Linked DNA regions of Homo sapiens: region 2 is linked to region 1. Evidence: fine-mapped expression QTL. A gene starts in region 1. The other region holds a variant in brackets. All regions are shown on one strand. Distances are between the middles of the regions. Region 1 holds the start of TTLL12 (tubulin tyrosine ligase like 12). Region 2 overlaps SCUBE1 (signal peptide, CUB domain and EGF like domain containing 1).

What was found. PIP is the estimated chance that this variant, and not a neighbour inherited with it, causes the effect.
Region 2: its variant is fine-mapped to the expression of TTLL12 in whole blood (INTERVAL, PIP 0.98).

Annotation. Positions count from the first base shown.
Region 1 is chr22:43,181,442-43,191,309 of GRCh38, forward strand. TTLL12 (tubulin tyrosine ligase like 12) reads right to left here and starts at 5,693. Exons shown (of 14, transcript NM_015140.4): 1 at 5,452-5,693; 2 at 1,539-1,708. The coding sequence starts at 5,628. RefSeq lists enhancers at 4,344-4,848, 4,789-4,868, 4,879-4,938 and silencers at 5,319-5,538, 5,579-5,738, 5,987-6,106.
Region 2 is chr22:43,218,617-43,228,484 of GRCh38, forward strand. SCUBE1 (signal peptide, CUB domain and EGF like domain containing 1) reads right to left here. Exons shown (of 22, transcript NM_173050.5): 10 at 8,758-8,880; 11 at 4,481-4,600; 12 at 4,022-4,126; 13 at 2,557-2,673; 14 at 1,834-1,971. Among named protein-coding and RNA genes, the nearest start is that of SCUBE1-AS2, 11 kb to the left of the region's middle. RefSeq lists enhancers at 1,631-2,132, 7,250-7,816, 7,817-8,382 and a silencer at 6,464-6,629. The variant C/G (reference allele first, on the strand shown) is at 4,782.

The DNA of each region.
Region 1 (9,868 bases):
AGGGCTACCACACAGGCCTCACCCACGCAGCCAGGTCTTCTGGAAGCACCAAGGCCTTTGTGTGGGAGAGGCTTCCAGTCCCCACACACAGGACCCCTGCAGCTGAGCTGCTACAGAAGCATGCTGGGGCTGTGGCACAGGATCAACTGTCCCTACCCTGTAGGACACAGGGCTGACCATAATCCTCCCAGAGCTCTGCCGGATCAGGAGGCACCAAACACACAGGTGCCTAATAGACAAAGCCGCCCCCAGCTTGCCCCCGTCTCTGTTCCCCTTTTAAAATGAAAGGGACAGCCAGTGTTCCAGTTCTTAGGCTGGGGGGCAAGTTCAGGAGTATTTATCTTATTGTGCTTATATGAGTTTTGTTGGCCTGTCCTAAAATAAGTGGGTTTACTCTTGCACTTGTGTTAGAGTGGGTGACCACGTGATGCAGGGCAGAGCCAGGCCTTCGGGGTGACCCTGGGCAAGTGCAACAAGGGGTGTTGTACAAAGATAGCTATGGGGATGAGGATGGAGAGCTTGTTAGGGCCTGGCAATCAGGGGAGACTCAGGGGGATGAAGGCCCGGAAGCAGAAAGGCCCGGAAGCAGAAAGGCCCGGAAGCAGGTGGGGCTGAAACAAACACTCAGGCTCCAAATCCAAGACTCTGGATCCCTAGCCTCCCCACCACCCAAAACAAGGCTGGCAGCGGGGTATGTGGTTGTAGGCCCGAGAGAGAACATGAGCTGGGAGCTCCCAGGGCAGCCACTGCACTGAATTCACCTGTTCCTGGGCCTGAGCCGCACAGGAGAACTCACTTCACTGAACCTGAAGGGGACGGTGAGCCCAAGCACGCATGGGCGGGGGTGCTGGGCTGTCCGTATTTCCGGGGTGGCTTGCTACTGCCCACTCCCAGCTGGAGGAGGAGGCGGGAGAAGCTCTGCAGAAGAGACCAGACCCCTGCCCAAAGAGCTGTGCGTGGACACAGGGGCCCAGCAAGTTTCTCTGAGGGTCCACAAAACCTTTGGCAGATGGGCCTGCAGGCCTGACCTAGGGATAGCCACTCTTGGTCCCTGGGGGCAGGAAGCCTGGGGTACAGTCTCAGCTCTGCCCTAACTACACCGTGGTCCTTGGCAAGGCCAGGCCTGCTCTGGGTCTCAGGTCCTCAGGTGTTCCAGGGCCCACCCCAGATTCCAATTTAGCAGGACCAGAGAGGGGCTGTGACTGGGGAGGAGTAAGGCTGACCTGCACCCTTAACCTGGAGGGTGACCTCGAGCAAAACTGGAACTTCTAATCCCCTGTAGCAGGACCACTGTGACAATGAGACCGCTGGGAGAGGCTCTCAGGCCGCGGTCCATCCGGTCACCCCAGGAACGCTGTGTTGCCACGGACAGTACTCTGAAGCCCTGATGGACACACCGCTGGCCACACGTGCTTGCCACAAAGCTGTCCTAAGGAAGATGTCCAGCGGCGGTGCAGGGCCCAGGAGAATCTGCATTACTGCATCTCCCACCTTTCACCAAGTGAAGGTTGTGGTGGTGTCTCTGGCCAGGCTCCTACCTGTTGGGGTGGGCTGCCTGGAGCCCGCTCTCCCTGGTCACGATGACCTTGTAGCACAGCTCGTTCCCCGGGTTGGGCTGCTGCTTCCGCACCTCCCGGGCTGCCTCGTCCTCCTCCTCTTCTACCTCCTCCACTTGCATGATCCCAAACACTTCCCCAGCGTCGAAAACCTGGGGGCCAGAGTTCCCGTCAGCAGGGGTGTGGGCAGGAGACCCCACCCCAATGCCTTCACCACTCCAGAAAGCCACCCGAGGTGCCACACCCAGGCCTCAAGGACAAACTTGTCTCCTTCAGAGGTGTGGGACCTGTTTAATGCAACCACACAGTCTTACGGGCGGGGAGACTGAAGCTCCTGGAGATTTCAGGCTCGGAACAGGGACCTAATGTACCCCACCGTCACCTGAGCTGTCATCCAGAGCCTCGTCCCACAGGATGCTGTGCATGGAGATGGGACCTTGAGGACTTGCTGGAGGTATCTGTAGTCCACCCCACTCACATTACACAGAAAGAGAGGCCCCAAAGGCAGAGAGGGTGGCTCCAATTACACTGGAGGTCAATGGAAGAGTCAGGATCTTGGTGGCTGGGGGCACACCCCAATGCCCCCCTCACCAGAAGAACCCCTCAACACTAGGACAGCTGAGTCAACTCACAGAGAAGCCTCCTCCAGCCCAGCCCCACCCAATCCAGGCCAACAGGAAGCGAGGCCCCAGGTCAAGGTGGGATGGGGAGATAAGGGCCTTGGTCCTGCCTTGTGCGGCTAGTCAAGCAGGCAAGTGACCTCTTCTGGTGTGTGTGGAGCAGAGGGGTCCCTGGCACAGCCACACTCACGCCCTGTCTGCCACAAGCCGGCAAGGGGGGCTTCTGGGCAGATTCTGGAGCCAGGCTGTGTGGGTTCAAATCTTGGTTTCACCACTTCCTAGACAAGTGACCTTGAACAAGTTACTTAACTATCCCATGCGTGTTTCCTCATCCACACAATGGGAATAACAGAACCTCCCTCTGAGGGCTACTGGGAGGATTAGGTGATTCATACCCAGAACTCAGAGTGGAGCCTGGCCACAGCAAATGCTCTATAAACACGTGGCGCCATTGTTACACTTCTGAGACTGTTTCTTCACTTGTGAGAGGGGGTGTCATCCACCTTTCAGGACACTGATGGAATGAAATCAAACAGCGTGCATAAAGTCCTGGCGCACAGTGGAGGCTCAACAAAGGCCAGTTCCTCCCTAAAACGTATTTCCCACTACTCGATTAAAAACGGCAGTTGGAAACTAGCTAAGTACTCAGGTGCAGGCAGCTTTTGTGCACTGGGCAGGACTTGCCCTTTGGTGGCGTGAGGATGAATCACTCAAGGTCTCGCTCAGGAAGCTCAGGCTGAGTAAGGTCTAGGCCACCTAAGAGTATCAGGTAAATTGCTCTGGGGCCTGGAGGGCCTGGGAAGACTTTATGGATGAGGAACCATAACCAGAGGCCAGCTTTGAAGAAGGGGAAGATTTAAACATGAGGCTACGGGGTGAGGATGGAAAGGAACTCCACGCAGAGGGAAGAGTAAGAGCGAAGGCCTGGAGGCAGATAGCCCAGGGTGGAGCAAACCAGGGGTCACATGAGAGACAAGGCACCTGAGACAAGAGCCATCCAGTTCTCCTTTAGCCCTCAAGGTGGGTCTGGGGAGGCTACTGCCTTCTCCAGTTTAGGGCTGGGGGGAGGCTCAGAGGGCTGGAATCCAGACCTCGGGCTTCCGCCCCAGTACTCCAAATCCCTAGGGGACAGCGTGAGGCTGAGGGTCAGAGAGCCTGTCTCAAGCCTGGCCTGGATTCAACCCAGCTGTGAAATGGGGTGCTGGGTTTCTCCTTCACCACAACCCCTTCATGGCAGGACTGGAAGAGCTCCCCAGGAGATAAGGGGAGTGGTTTTGCAACTGGGAAGCTTGTGCAGACAGAAGAGTAGACATTTTAAAAACATCTCTTCGGCCGGCCGTGGCGGCTCACGTCTGTAATCCCAACACTTCGGGAGGCCAAAGCGGGCGGATCACGAGGTCAGGAATTCGAGATCAGCCTGACCAACATGGTGAAGCCCCATCTCTACTAAAAATACAAAAATTAGCTGGGTGTGGTGGCGCACGTCTGTAATCCCAGCTACTCGGGAGGCTGAGGCAGGAGAATCATTTGAACCCGGGAGGCAGAGCTTGCAGTGAGCCGAGATCATGCCACTGCACTCCAGCCTGTGTGACAGAGCAAGACTCCGTCTCAATTAAAAAAAGAAAAAAATTATATATATATATATATATATATATATATATATATATATATATATATATATATGTATGTATCTTCAAGTTTCCCCATCCTTTCCAGGGCAGCCGGCCTAAGGTGAGGCAGGAGGGCTGATGGCCAGGGGTGTAAGGGCCCACAGCGCTGGCAGGTGCTGCTGCTGCTGGCGGCCTCCTCCACACCTGGGCCAGTAGCAGCAGGAGGCTTCACTCAGGAAGAGCTGCAAGTTTGTGAATGGTAAAGCAGTGATTCAGCTCTGTCCTTAACGGCTGGGGAAGGGTCACGGAAAAACACTGGCTGCCCCTTAGTAGGGCAACAGCAGGCAAGGCGGCCTGGGCAGGGGACGTGGCACGGTGGCGACCACCCTCTGTGTGCCAGGCATATTTCTCATGCCACCTCCCATCCTTCCAATACTGTGGGAGCCAGATGGTGTCTCACCATCCCCTTCCCAGATGGAGAACAGGTCTCAGACGGGCGAGTGACCGCCCGAGGGAGGGCGTGCTGCCGTGGAGGCTGGCTGGGCAGGAGCTGGTCATTCCCACTGTGCTCCTTCCACGCAGCCCATGGGAACCTTTTTGTCCTCATGAACAAACCAAGGTCCCTTCCACCCAGCACAGGCCTGGGACCAGAGTGGTCCTCGGAAAGCATATGGCAGAAGTGAGGGGCAGAGGAAACTCTCTGTTACACTGTAGCATAAGGAGGTGCCACTCACTGCACGTTTCCAGCAGGAAGGTTCCTAGTCCAATCAGGATTACACAGAGAAAAACTGGCTCAGAGACCGTAGAGTCTGGCCAGCAGCCAGGCTCAGGGACTCCTAGTTCCCGGCCCGGGTCCCTGTTCTTGGCTCTGGGGTTTCCACTTCATCACCTGCGCCACTAGGCTCATCTCCGTCCGGGAGACAGCACCTGGAGGAGATGTCGGGTCCCAGCTAAAGAAAACACCCCCCCCCCCGCCAGCCCGGGAAGGTGCTGTGGCCTCAGCCTCTGGGCACGCAATAAAAATCCAGGGCTCATCCCCAGCCAGGACAGTGGGGAACGCTTTGGAGTGGAGGAGGCAGGTGAGCCGGATGGGCCGTCCTCACAAAAAGGGAGAGAACCTAGAGGCTTCTCAATCTTTTCCATTTTTCTTTAGATTTCTCCTCCACCTCTCACAGCCTGTTTTCTTTAACCTGCAAGATGAGGGGACCCCGAGGCTCAAATCAAATGAAAAAACACCGAATTCTGTGAACCCAACAGTTACAGCTACACAAATTCACGGGGTTCCCGTTGTCCCTGTGAGGCAGCGGCTGAAAGAATCCCTCTGAAGGGACTCTCGGAGCCGCAGTGTTCTCATCTGTGAAGTGGGGGTGATGAGTTTCACTCCTCGCAGGGCTGTGTCAGGCTCGGGTGTGTGGAGGACCTAAAGTTCCCAACGCAGCCCTCAGCCGGTCTCGGGCCCGGGCAGATCAGGGCCGCAGGTACCCCGGTCTCCTGCTGTCACTCTTCGGCCCCCAACTCCACGCCGCTCCAGAGCTGCCCAGGACGCGCTCTGGGTGGCTCACCGCGGCTCCCGCCGCCCGGGAGCGCTCTTCCCTGTCCCGCGCCGCGGGCTCCCGCCGCGCTCCCACCCCGGCCGCCGCACGTGCCCGCCGCCCTTCCCCGCACCTCGTGCTCCAGCTTGTGCAGGAGGCGGCCCCAGTAACGTTCGGGGACCCCCGAAGCGCGCAGCGCCGGGCCGTGCAGCGCCGCGAACTCGGCCAAGGCCTGCGCGCCCTCCTCCGGCGTCTGGCCCGGGCTGCTACGCTCCGCAGGCCGGCGCTCGGGACCCCGCTCGGCCTCCATGGCGCCAGCACCCGCGCCGACTCCAGCGCCGCCACCGCCGCCGCCGCCCGCCGTCCGTCGGCCCTGCCCTCCCGCCTCCGCCCCCTGCCCCGCCCCGCCCTCCTCCCAGCGCCCCCCCCCCCGCCCCGCCCTCCTCCCAGCCCCCCCCCGCCCCGCCCTCCTCCCAGCCCCCCCCCGCCCCGCCCTCCTCCCAGCCCCCCCCGCCTCCGCCCCCCGCCCCGCCCGCCTCCCAGCACCCCCGCCCCGTCCTCCTCCCAGCCCCCCGCCCACCGCCCCGTCCTCCCCCCAGCCCCCCGCCCCTGCCGCGCCCCCTGCCCCCGCCCCCTGCCCCCCTCCCCACCGCCCCGTCCTCCTCCCGGCCCCCCCGACCCCTCCCCTGCCCCGCCCTCTTCTCGCCCCCTCACCCCGTCCCGCCCCGCCCCCAGTCCGCCTCCAGCCCGGTTTGCCGCGGCCCCCGGGCAGGCCCTGCGCATCGGCGGGGTGCGTGCGAGAGCGCGCGAGCTTGCCAGGAGGGGGCGCGCGTCTGCGACCGCGCCTGTGGTTTGGCTGCCGCCGTGTGCGCACGCGCACCTGATGGTGGCTGAGCTTTTCTCGCTCAGCGCGCGGCGACCCCGGGGAATGCCGGGAGGGCGGGGTGCCTACGTATAGGGCGCTGTCAGGACCGGAAAAGGCCCCACCGACGGCCCGGAAGGTGTCCTGGGGCCCGAACCCGGTGAGGCGGCGCTTCTGTGCCTGCACCGGGCACACAGAGCTCGCAGGCCCCCTGCCTTGGGAGCTCTCGATTCTTGTGAGCGTTTCACCAGATTTGGATGCTGCAAAATCGTGGCCCTTCTCAATTACTTATATTTGGATTCGGAATGTCAGTTGATCCAATTAAGACCAAGTGTACCCGTCAGAGGAATTTACTCCTACATGTCGGGATGTTTCGAAGTGCAGTTGAGCTGGGCGTGGTGGCCGCGTCTGTAGTCCCAGTTACTCGGGAGGCTGAGGCGGGAGGATAGCTTGAGCCCAAGAATTCAAGTCCAGCCTCGGCAACATAGCCAGACTCCCTCTTTAAAAGAAAACAGTTCAGTTATAGAATTTCAAAAGACATTCTCTTTTGAACTCTCATTGAGTTTTATTGCTCCATAGGGATACATTTCAATGTCTTCCTTTTTGCAATTTTGTAAGAATTGTAATTTGCTAAAAAACAAAGGCTGAAAATTTTTTGGAGCTTCAGATGCTATTTTGATAACATTTTTGAACTGAGTTTGAATAAAATGCACCAATTCACGGACTTGTTCAATTCCATTGTAGGAAGCAGGTGGGTCTGCAAAGGCAAAAATTTCCAAACTCAAGTTGGTGAGGGCTGCAGAGAAAAACATTTTATTTATTTATTTATTTTGGGATGGAGTTTTGCTCTTGTTGCCCAGGCTGGAGTGCAATGGTGCAGTCTCGGTTCACTGCAACCTCTGCCTCCCGGGTTCAAGTGATTCTCCTGCCTCAGCCTCCCAAGTAGCTGGGGCTACAGGTGTGTGCCACCACGCCTGGCTAATTTTTTGTATTCAGTAGAGACAGGGTTTCACCATGGCCAGAGGAAAACCCTGATTCCTCGGTTTTTGTTGTGGAAGCCAAGGCTGAGATTGTACCATTGCACTCCAACCTGGTCAACATAGCGAGACTCCATCTCAAAATAAATAATATAGTAAAACAGCATCACAATGCTAGGATGGGGCATGCTGGCTCACACCTGTAATTCCAGCACTTTGGGAGGCCAAGACAGGAGGATCACTTGAAATAAGGAGTTTGAGACCAGGCTGGGCAACAAAGCAAGACCTCGACCCTACAAAAAGAAATTTTTAATTAGCCAGGTATAGTGGTACACACCTAGTGCACCTCCCGCTTCCACAACCCTTCCATCGGTCCCGCTGGGGAAGACAGACTGAGTCTCAGTTGTGTCAGGTACTGGTCAGATTATGTGAACATTCCTGACCCAGCCCCTTTGACCAGGAGAATGTGAGGCTCTGACAGGGCAGTCCTCTTTCACATGCTCCTCCCCAAATGTAAACCCAGTTGTATCAGATCCCTACTTGGAACCCTTTGTGGTTCAACTCTTCACCTGAGCTCCAAGGCTCTGTGTGAGCTGGCACTGCCAACTTTTCCAGCCTCTTTTCATTACACTCTTCCCCTCACACTGTGAGTCCCTGTATCTCTGGTTGTCTTCAGCTCCTGGAAAGCATTGTGCTCTGTTTTCTGCCAGAAAGCCTTTCTCCCCATGCTCACTTTGTAAATCCTGACTCATTCTTCTCAGCTGAAATGTTGTCTTCTAAAGAGGCACTGAAGAATGTGTATTTAATCAACATAAAATTACTGCTCTGCTCCCATTACTGCCACCAACCCCCTCCCCCTCCAGACAATTGAAAAAAAGGAGAGAGAGAAACAGGGAAAAAAAAAAGAGTTTAAAAGTCCCTTCCATAGCCGGGCACAGTGGCTCATGCCTGTAATCCTAGCACTTTGGGAGGCCAAGGCGGGTGGATCACCTGAGATCAGGAGTTCGAAACCAGGTTGACCAACATGGTGAAACCCCATCTCTACTAAAAATACAAAATTTAGCCGAGCATGGTGGTGGGCACCTACAATCCCAGCTACTCAGGAGGCTGAGGCAGGAGAATTGCTTGAACCCAGGGGTGGGGGTATGGAGGTTGCAGTGAGCCAAGATCGCATCAACTCACTCCAGCCTGGGGGAAACTCCGTCTAAAAATAAAAAAGGCCCTTCCATCCTGAAAATCCAAGCCCAGGTTGACCTTTGGTCCCTGATAGCTTTTTGTTCTGAGAGCTTTGCCAAGGGTACTCATACAAAATGGGTTTTTCATACAACATGGAGCCTAAACCCAATACAATGACTTTGTGAAAGTTGATCATAAGAATTGGGTCACCAGGCGTGGTTGCTCACCCCTGTAATCTCAGCACTTTGGGAGGCCGAGGTGGGTAGATCACTAGGTCAGGAGTTCAAGACCAGCCTGGCCAAGATGGTGAAACCCCCGTCTCTGCTAAAACTACAAAAATTAGCCTTGGTGCGGTGCCTGTAACCCCAGCTACTTGGAAGGCTGAGGCAGGAGAATTGCTTGATCCCTGGTGGCAGAGGTTTCAGTGAGCCGAGATCGTACCACTGCACTCCAGCCTGGGCCACAGAGTGAGACTCCAACTCACAAAAAAAAAAAAAAAAAAAAAAAATTGGGTCATTCTTGTCATAATTAAAACAGAGTTGAGAAGCCAAGAGGGAAAAAGCATTTGGGGTGCAAGGCATTGTTCCCAAAATGTAATTCTCTGTAAGCCCGACTGCTGAAACTGCTTGTGGTAACCTAAAACCATTTATTGATAACTTCTGAGATAACTGACTGCAACTCTAGGACTAATAAGGCTCACCAAGCTGAGCTTACTAACTCCCCAAACCCTTACAAGTACCAGTGAACTTTCTCAAAGAGCAATATGTAACATTTCTTCTTCTTTTTTTTCTTTTTGAGGAAGGGTCTCACTTTGTTGCCCAGGCTAGAGTGCAGTGGCCAGTGACGCAATCATAGCTCACTGCAGCCTTGAACTCCTGGGCTCAAGCAATCCTCCCACCTCAGCCTCCTGAGTAGCTAGGACTACAAGCATGTGCCACTATGCCTGGCTAATTTTTAAGTTTTCTGTGGAGACAGGGGTCTCATTGTGTTGCTTAGGCTGGTCTCAAACTCCTGGCCTCAAGTGATCCTTCTGCCTTAGCCCAGAGCACTGGGATTGTAGGCATGAGCAACTGTGCCTGGCCCATTTCTCTGTTTTAAATAAAACTTCTAACCTTCTCTTTGTTCTTCGGACAAAGCAAAGACCACCTGGTCTGTAGGTGCACCCTGAATGGCAGTTCCTTCTTCACAAATAAAACATTACATTTAGGCCAGGCATGGTAGTTCATGCCTGTAATCCCAACACTTTGGGAGGTCAAGGTGGGCAGATTGGTTGAGCCCAGGAGTTTGAGATCAGCCTGAGCAACACAGTGAAACCCCATCTGTACAAAAAATACAAAAATTAGCCAGGTATGGTCGTGGGTGCCTGTAGTCCCAGATATTCGGGAGGCTGAGGCGGGAGGATTGCTGGAGCCCTGGAGGTTGAGGCTGCAGTGAGCCATGACTGTGTCACTGCATTCCAGCCTGAGCAACACAGTGAAGCCCTGTCTCAAAAAAACAAACAAAAAAACAAAAAACTACACACATTAAGTTTACAG
Region 2 (9,868 bases), 37 kb after region 1:
TCTGACAGATGAGGAGGCTGCGGACCTGGGAGGCAGGGCCTGCCCACGGCCACGCAGCAGATCTGAGTGCAATCCAGGCAGCTGCCACTGCACCACATCACCCCCCAGGGTACGACTCACGGGGCAAGAACGCCTTTCTGTCACTCAAAGACTCTTGGGGACTGCCACTGTCCCCAGGATAGTGTCCAGCTCTCTGGCCTTGAATCCAAGGCCCTTCAAGGTCCAGCCCCGTATGGCCTTGCCAGCCTCATCCCCTCCACTCTGACACTCCCTGTGGATTCCAATGTCTAGCCACCTGGCCCTACTTACTGCTTCCTGGACACCTCCTCCTCTCTCTGACCTCTGTGCCTTTGCCTATTCTATTCCCTCTGCCTGAATGCCATTCCTTGCCACCTTTTCCACCCAGTGAGCTTTGATTCTAAGCTCTCATTCAAATGGCACCTCTTCTGGGAAAGCTTCCTGATATGGTTTCAATATTTGTCTCTTCCAAACCTCATGTTGAAATCTGATCCCTAATGCTGGGGGTGGGGCCTGGTGGGAGGTGTCTGGGTCATGGGGTAGGTCCCTCATGAATGGCCTGGTGTGGTAGTCAGTTCTTGCTGGCTCTACTAGTCGCCACGAGATGTGACTGGTGAAGACATAGGCACCCCCTCCCCTCTCTCTTGCTCCCTTACTCTTGCTATGTGATGCCAGCTGCTCTTCACCTTCCTCCGTGAGCAGAAGCAGCCTAAGGCCTCGCCAGGCAGATGCTGCTGCCGTGTTCTCGGACAGCCTGCAGAGCCGAGAGCCAATAAGCTCTTTTCCTGATAAATTATGCAGCCTCAGGTGTTCCTTTTAGCAACGCAAATAGACTAAAACATTTCCTTTTTTTTTTTTTGAGATAGAGTCTCACTCGTCGCCAGGCTGGAGCACAGTGGCGCGATCTCAGCTCACTGCAATCTCTGCCTCCCAGGTTCAAGCGATTCTCCTGCCTCAGCCTCCTGAGTAGCTGGGATTACAGGTGCCTGCCACCACACCTGGCTAATTTTTGTATTTTTAGTAGAGACAGGGTTTCACCATGTTGGCCAGGCTGGTCTTGAACTCCTGAACTCAAGTGATCCACCCACTTTGGCCCTCCCAGACTGCTGGGATTACAGGCGTGAGCCAGTGTGCCCAGCCAGACTAAGACATTTCCTAAGCCCTCCCGTGGGGGGCAGACCTCAGTTCTATGCATTGTTTGTTCTTGTGCCCCCACCACCGAGAGTCCCACCTGGCAATGGGTGGTTTGCACGTGCGTCTGCCTCTCTGGCTGAGAGTGTTACCTGGGTGGGGACTTTTCTTTCCACAGCGCCCAAGCCCACAGCCAGGCCCATACCACACTTATCTGCTGACAGATCCCATCTCTTCAACATCAACGACTCACAGGTTGACACTCACATATAGCCAAGAGCAAAGTGCTGCTGTGACACCCGAGCCAGCATTAGAACCTCCTTCAGGAACCAGGAAAGACAATCCTTGGCTCAACCATTCTAGGGGGGCTGCACCTATTTGTCCTCCCGGGTCCCAGCAGGAGTGTGGAGGGGCAGATAAGGGTCATGTGACTTTTGAGGTCACCTCGGCTCTTCTGTCTCATTGCCCTGGGCTGCCTCTTCTATCCTGGGCTGCAAGCGTTGACCCCTGCCAGCTCCCTTTGCTTGTGGGCCTGCCTCTGTCTCCAGAAGCTGGGCTCCCATCCCAGCCACAGCTGTGCTCTGGTGGGAGCCTAGCTTCATGCCTGGCAGGCCCCCGGCAGCGCCACCAGCCTGTCGTCCTCCTTCAGGCCTGCAGAAGCCCCCAGGAGAACCCCTCACCTACCTGAGGCCTCTTCCATCTTTGTCTCGATCTCAAACTCTGCTGTGATGTGGGACACCTCCTTGGATGGGGACTTGCGGCCACGGCGCCTCTTCTTGGAGGAGTCACACTTGAGGGTCACGAAAGTCACATGGCAGTGGTCTGGACGAGGAAAGGACCACTGTGGCAAAGGCGGCATGGGGCAGGGAGCAAGGTCCTACCAAGCCCTGCATACAGAGTGCCATTGGCAAGGACTTCCTGGTCCGTGGTGCAGACGGAAAAACTCAGGCTAGAGAAGGTCAGGGCTGGCTCGGGGTCTCAGGAGGGGCTGGTGGCTGAGCCAGGTCTCACGCCCGGTCCATCACGCTGCTGCAGGTGGAGGCATCTCATACATATTCATGAATGAGGCTGTGCCCCCAGCTCTGGGCCTGCTGAGGGTTTGGCCAGTGCAGACTCGGCTCTGGGCAGAGCCTGCTGCGTGCTGAGAGCTCTGTTAGGTTTGAGAAGGAATCTTCACGGGGACAGAGCTGGTGCCTTCCTCCGGGGCCCCTCGTACCAAGCTTGCCCTCCGCTGTTTCCCCAGCCTGCAATGTCCTTGGAAACTCTCATTCAATAAACAGCTGCCAGGTGAGAGAGACCTCCACCCTTGGAAACCAGACTCGCTGGACCCTGGGGCCCCAGCTCCCAGGCATGAGGACTCTCCTACAGCCCCGTTGGTGTGGGTTAGGAGCAGGGCGTCCCACTCACCCAGCAGCGGCTGCCTGGCGGTCTCCTTTGCTCGTGCCTGGCTGTGGGGCCGGAGGTGGCACTTGGCATCTCGGATCTTGAAGCGGGCCTTCTGTTTGATGGGGGTGGTGGGGGCATCTGGGGAAAGCCAAAATTCCCCCAGGTGGTGGCCTCTCCTGCAGGCAAGGAGGTGGTGGGGGACGGGGGCTGCCAGGGGACAAATCCATCTGGAGCTGGGGGTGGGGCTTGATCTGAGTCCCTGTGCCCCGACAGCTCTCCTGGGGTGGGGGACCCTCTCCTGCCCCATTTCTCTCCCTGCAAGGCCTAAAACAGGTGAACACATGGATGGTGGGGTCAAGCTCAAGCCCAGGGGCCACCCGCCAGAGGTCTTCTGAGAAGGAGGACAGGGATCCTCCTACCTCCTCCCCATCAGCAAGCCATGATTGTGCTTTAGGAAAGAGCGTAGAACAGAAGAGAGATAGGACAGCAAGGAAGGGAAGGGGCTTTGAAATACTATAGATCCAGGACTGCCGGTTCCTTGCAAGAGCAAATCATAGCCCTTGGACTAAAGAATCCTACCACCACAGGTGCTTAGAATCAAATCACATATGCATTAAATATATAGAAATGGGCAGGGTGCGGTGGCTCACGCCTGTAATCCTAGCACTCTGGGAGGCCGAGGCAGGCGGATCACTTGAGGTCAGGAGTTCCAGACTAGCCTGACCAACATGGTGAAACCATGTCTCTACTAAAAATACAAAAATTAGCCAGGTGTGGTGATGGGCACCTGTAATCCCAGCTACTCAGGAGGCTGAGGCAGGAGAATTGCTTGAACCTGGGAGGCGGAGGTTGCAGTGAGCCGAGATCACGCCACTGCACTCCAGCCTGGGTGACAGAGCGAGACTCCGTTTTAAAAATAATAATAATAATAATAAAGAAACATACAGAAATGCACCTATCTATCAAATCCAGCATCCTGAATAAGAAAAGCTGCTGAAGACACAACCCTCAGCTCCTTAGCTGGCAGGAGCTAAGGCTGGCTGTGCCATGCCGACCAAGCCCAGCGGGTCACTCCCAAAGGGCTGGGACTGTGCTGCACCTCGGCGCTTCTTGGCATGCTCTGCACGGCCAGGCCAGCTCTGACTCGGGAGAACCTAATAGCCACAGCAGATGTGGCTTGCTCCACCCATACAGTCTGAGATCTGTGCACTCACAGCACGTTAGAGTCCCTGAACCACTCTGGCTGTGACCTCAGAGCCGGAAGGGCCCTCCCACGGTCCCCTGACCCTGGGCTAGAACTCGGCCTGCAGCCTGCTGGCTTCTAGGTCCTGGGCCTGGCTCATCGCCAGCACCCCAGGCCACACGGAGCAGGGCCGAGAGCAGGAAGGTCTTCCCTGGGCGGTGCCCTTTCCTCCCCCGCCAGCATGTTGCTGGATGCAGTCAAGTCACCCAGTGGCATGCAGCATGGACAGGCCGGGGGGGTTACCTGAGCAGCTGGGCCCGAGGCCAGAGCTGGTGCCGTTGCGTTTCTGCAGCGCCTTGCCCTGCGGCCCTGGAACTCCGCAGCTCAGGACGTAGCTATTTTCCGAGTCTGCAGAGAAGCCGGTGGGTGAGGTGGGCCTGGTGCTCCTCCCTCCCACGGCCCTCAGATTCTTGGGGCCTCAGAGGGATTGTGGAGTGAGACGAAGATCAGGACAGATTCTTCTGCCAGTTTCTGCTACACAACCACAGGGAAGTGGCCAGGAGGAAGGAGCCCACTGGGTTTACTGAGAAGGACAGCGAGGCCCACAGAAAACCAGACAGCTGCCTTAGGGTCACTCAGTTATCAGAGACCCTCATTCCTAGGTCAGACTCTTTCCTGGAGGACAGCTGGGAGCAATGGTGGGACCCCAGGGAGGAAGACCCCCCTGCCACAGCATCCCATCTCAGGGACGGCCCGGGTTACCTGGCACGAAGAGTGTGTGAGCCGGGCAGGAAAGGAAGCAGCTCTCCACACCGCCTGCCTTGCTGCAGGACAGCTGGGCCCGGGGGGAGGTCTTGGCGCGAGAAAGACACTTGCCTGTCTCTATGAAGGGAGATACGAGAGAGGGCTGAGAGAGGCCAGGGCGGAGGCTTCCTGGAGCCAGGAGGGTCCTGGGTATGGCCTAATGGGGACTCCCCCAACTCCCTTCTTCCATGGCTGGGCTGGCTTGGTGGGAAGGCGCCTGGAGATCGCAGGTCCCTTGGGCGTGTGGGGATGCTGGGCC[C/G]AGACAGCTGGCTTAGTCCCTCCTCCCCTTCAGGCTCTAATCCTGGCTGTGAGAAGGTTCATGTCCCCATCCCCAGATCAGAAACTCCCTGAGGGCAGGGCTGAGCTCTCCAGGGCAGGCGTCCATTCCCACTGGGGAAAGGAACGGCGCTAAATGAACACTGGCTTCCTGGGAGGGGCCGTGGGGGGGATCGCTCGGAAGCACCTCTTTGGGGCAGCCTCTGCTACAGCCATCAGGTGTCTGGAGAAACAGCCCTCCAGAATTTCTCACTTGCTTACTTATCTTTAGAGGATGAAAAAGTCCCCCGGACTCCTAGGAAAAGACGGACGGTTCTACAGCCATGGTAAATACCAGAACTGATTTTACAGATGGCTAATTGGTCGGTGACAACCGGCTTATGTGGCACGCCTCTGAAAGCCACCTCATGAGTGACAGCCTCGCACTCTGGTCAGTCATCAATGTGGAGTTACTCCAGTGTAACCAGGCTTCCAGGTTCAGTCAAGTCACCTCCCTTCTGTAACCCACACAGGCCATGCTTCTAGACTCCCATCAACCTAATCCCAACCTGCCTGGAATAAGCTTTGCCCCAAATCCCCAGGGAAGATCAGCAGTTTGCTTTGCTCCCTGAGCCTGCCTGACCAACACAGCTCCCCCTTACTTAAGCGACAGCTCAGCTTTCTGGTTTCAGATACTGAGCGGTGGCTGATCTCATCCTTTGGTAATTCTGGAGGTTCCTCCAAGATTGTTTTAGAAACCCTTGCTTCCCAGTGTCCTTTGGGTGCCGTGGGCCACAGGTGTCCTTGGTCAACCCCCGGGGCCCACATTTTGTCTGTCCTGCTGATTGCTTTCTGCGAGGGCACCGTGTGACAACACTCTGAGCTCTCACTTGCTTTGCTGCTCTCTCGTGCTGACTGCTTTGTTAGCAAGTGGGCCTCTGGCTGGGGAGCAAGACCTTGTGTTCGGAGACACACATTTACCTGTGTGTTCTGCTGCTGGGCACTTTGCTTTTGCTTGACTATTAGATAAAGGTTTATCCCATGAGTTTTGTTGTGCTCTGACTTGTCTTGTGTTTGATGGATAGATAACAGGGTGCTCCTTGGGGACCAGATGGCGACACAGGCCCTGCATGCTTCCAACTCAATCCAAGCTGGCCCCCAGGATCAATGGTCAGAGGTCTATGATACTAGGGGCCAATTCCTGTAGGCAACTAGGCAGGGCTTTCCTTGGGTCCCTTCTAAAATCTTCCTCAGGGCGCTCCTGTTCTGCCAACACGTGAAAGGAGGCCCCTTTGTTTTCTCCATATTCTGGGGTCACAGCTGTCAGGTCACTGACTGCACGGCCCTTTCCAGCCTGTGTCTGGTTGGGGGAACCGGAACGTCATGCTAAGCACACACTTTTGACTGATGAAAGTGATGATCATGGGCTGGTTATGCCAAGGCTGCAACTTCCCTGGCTGAACTCCTGCAGCCTTATGAATTTAGACTATTATCCTAACTTGTGCTTGTCCTGGTAAATGGCAAACTGCCCCCTACTCACCACAAAACCTAAACAGCGACAACTACCACCACCAGCTTAGAATAACGTTGGTCATTGTGGGAACTTCTGACACATCAAAACTAATACATTAATATATTTAAGAGGAGCTCTAAAATGTTAGGAGACAAAATTTCATCATTTAATAGCTTCTGCCACTGGTATACCTTGGCCTCAGTTTCCTCCCACTCAAACCTTCCGAAATCCACTTGCCACTCTCTCTGCCCAGCTCCATCTTCACCAGCCACTTATCGCATCACCCCCCCACTCCTGCCCCTCCATCTCCTACACAAGCAACTCCTCCCTTAGGGTTTATCCCAGGAAAGCCAGAAATCAGATCTCTAATGCTGGATGTAAAGCCACGTCTAGAGCTATGCTGAGTGCTGAAGGAAATTTTCCTAAACTCCAGGAGACAGACAAACATTTGCTTAAGAATTCAGGATATCGCTGGATAGTTATTGTCCCGGATGATCAGATCTGTATCACAATGAGTTCACCTAAGTGTTAGGATCTTGGATGGAAGAAAAAGTTCAAAAGCAACAGATGGTAAAGAGCAGTAGAAGCGGCCGGGCTCGGTGGCTCACGCCTGCAATCCCGGCACTTTGGGAGGCTGAGGTGGGTGGATCACAAGGTCAGGAGGTCGAGACCAGCCTGACCAACATGGTGAAACCTCGTCTCTATTAAAAATACAAAAATTAGGTGATCTGGTGATCTGCCCACCTCAGCCTCTCAAAGTGCTGGGATTACAGGCGTGAGTCACCGTGCCCGGCCAAATGTTTCTTTCTGAGAAACTAAATGTGTCAGCCTCTTTCTTCTGCCACTCAGTTTCTTGCCCTTTGGAGGCAGGTTTGCGTAAACCTGCTCACCACAGAGCAATGACCCCCTAACACCCTCAATGAACAACGCTTTCCTGCAAAGAATCTGAAGGTACCATATCCTTCCTATGCTTGTAAGACGGAGATCCCCTCATGCTGCCTCCGCCACCCGTACAACCCCAAACAAGCTCTTTCCCAAAACTCAGCAGAAGAGCAGCAGTTGACTTTGTTCAGTGAGACTTTGCCTGAAAAGCACAGCAAGTCCTTCCACAAGTACGTGATAAACTCAGCCTTTGGATTTCAGATATTAAATGATGGTTTGTATTCGTTAATGTGTTCACTGACAAATATTTACTCTGTGTCTGTGATTGTCAGGGTCTGTTCCAGGTGCTGGGGCTCTAGCAGTAAATGGGACAGGCCAAGAAGACCTGTTTAACTGTGTAAAGCTTACATTCTAGTGAGGAGAGAGAGATGGACAGACAGACAGACATACACCAACACGAACCTGTAAAGTGCACATTACTTCTGGTGGCTGGGAGTGTGATGGGAGGGAAAGCAAGCTGGAAGCACAGGGGGCCCAGATGGGTGCGGAAGTGGCCAAGGCTGCGGCTCTGGGTGGGTGATGGGGCAGGCCTCACTCACAGACCCTCACAGCAAGGGAGGAGTGAGGAGTGCTGGTGTGGGGGGGCCCTCCAGGCCAAGAGAAGCGCACAGCCTCGGGCTGAGGGCTGGTGGAGGCCCTGCGAAGTCAGTGAGGCTGGCGTGAAGCGAGGGAGACAGCAGAGGGCAATCCTGTCAGCTGGCGGCAGCCTTCGGGCCATTCCAAGCGCTGTGGCTTTGATTCAGAGTCAAAGGAGGAGTTACCGGGGTTGGAAGGGGCGGAGGGTGGGGGTGGGGGCGGGGTTCTGAGCCCAGAGGGATGTTCTAACTTACATTTAAAAGGCTCACTTAGGCTGCCCTGGGGATGTCAGAGTGTGGCGGGGCAAGGACCCGGCGTGGAGGTTCCAGGAGGGCAGGCCCACAGCCCCAGCACCCAGACAGGGTCCCATGTACAGGGAACCAGGGAACGCAGGGGCCCGTCCAGAACTCAGCCTAGGGGCACCCAGTGCTGCGAGCATGCCTGCAGAGGGGGCAGGGACCATGGGCTTTCCAGGAGGCACTGCCACATCCCCTGCAACTGTGCCCCACTGAGGCTGCTGCACCCCGAGTGACCCTCCTCCTCCCCCTCAGCCTCCTCAGCAAGACAAGGGGAAGCTACCAGAGGAGAGGCCTCCACACCCACTCCCTCTAAGCTTCCAGCTCTATGGAGACATCAGCAGGGTCCCTGTGCCCCACGGCTGGGCTGCACATGGACCTGCAGATCTCCTCTGTGCCCTCCTCCCCACTTCAGGTCCCTGTTGCAGTGCCTCTGGCTGACACTGGCATGCTCTGCCTGGGACCCCCTCCTTTTCTGCAAGTCCTCATTCCCATCAGCCATACCCCAACAGCAGAGAACCTCTGCCTGGGAATGCAAGGCCTAGAGGAAAGGGAGGGGCTGTCCTGCTCACCCCCACCTCAGAAAAGCCACTGTCCCTCCCATCCAAGCCCAGGTGCAGGGGAGGGGCCAGCAGCACAGGGCGGCCACCTACCCACGCAATCCTTCCCGTTCCAGTGGAGCCGCCTCCCCGGGGGACAGACGCACTCGTAGCTGCCCTTGGTGTTGACGCAGCCCTGGTCACAGCTCCCGTTGCTCATGCTGCACTCGTCCACATCTGGAAGCACAGCGGGCGTAAGGGCAGAGGGGAGGCTGGCGGCTGGCGGCTGGCAGGGGAAGGGACCACCCAGGGCAAGAGGGCAAGAATCTCCTGACCCCACCGAGTCGGACAGCATCACGGGATGCAGATGAGCAGTGCACACGCCACACGCACACACACGCGTGGGTTTATAAGGCTCCTCACAGACCCCAGCGTCCCTTCCCCCAGGAACCTGGGTGGTTTTCTGAACTCAAGCAGCTGCACCCCAGGCTAGGGGGCAGAGGAGGTAGCACACGATTAAAGTTCCAACCCAACCAGGTTTTGTGGCGCAGGGAATGAGCACTGCTCCAGGGATTGTGAAACTGATTTTACCGTGGGACTCTGGACAAGCCCTTTTCTAGCCCCGGGTCCCCTGTGGTACAACAGACACCAGGGTGAAAGAGGTCACCGCTAAGGCCTTTCCTCCTCTGACCAAAAGCACCCGCTGAAGCTGGGGGAAGGGGCTGGGCCCCACATTCTGTTAGTTCTTGAGCTGCCTGCACTCGGCAGGCCCAGGGAAGGGGTGCCCAAGTTTTCGAGAGTCTTTCCAGAAGAATCTGTAGCCCGCCTCCAGAAGCCCAAGCACCAGCTATGTCCTGATCACATTCTTGCCTGACCCTGTCTGATCTTCAAGTGGCCTGGCATCGTGAGTGTGGCTACCCCCAGGTCACAGAAAAGGAAGAGAGAGGGGGACCGTCCTTGGCTTCCTAATCTTCACCCACCATGCCCATATAACACCAAGTCCCAGCAGCCTGGCTCTGACTCCTAAATACATCTAGAATCTTCCTCTTTGTTCCGTCGCTGCCCACCCTGCCCCGGCTCCAGCAGTGCATGCTCCCATGCCTGGAGCTGTCTTCCCAGTGGTACCCTGGATTCCACTCTCCTTTCCATGTGGTCACTGGGGCATCTAGTTCCATGAACTTGACCATATCACACCCCTGCTTAAACCCTCCACAGGCTTCTCATC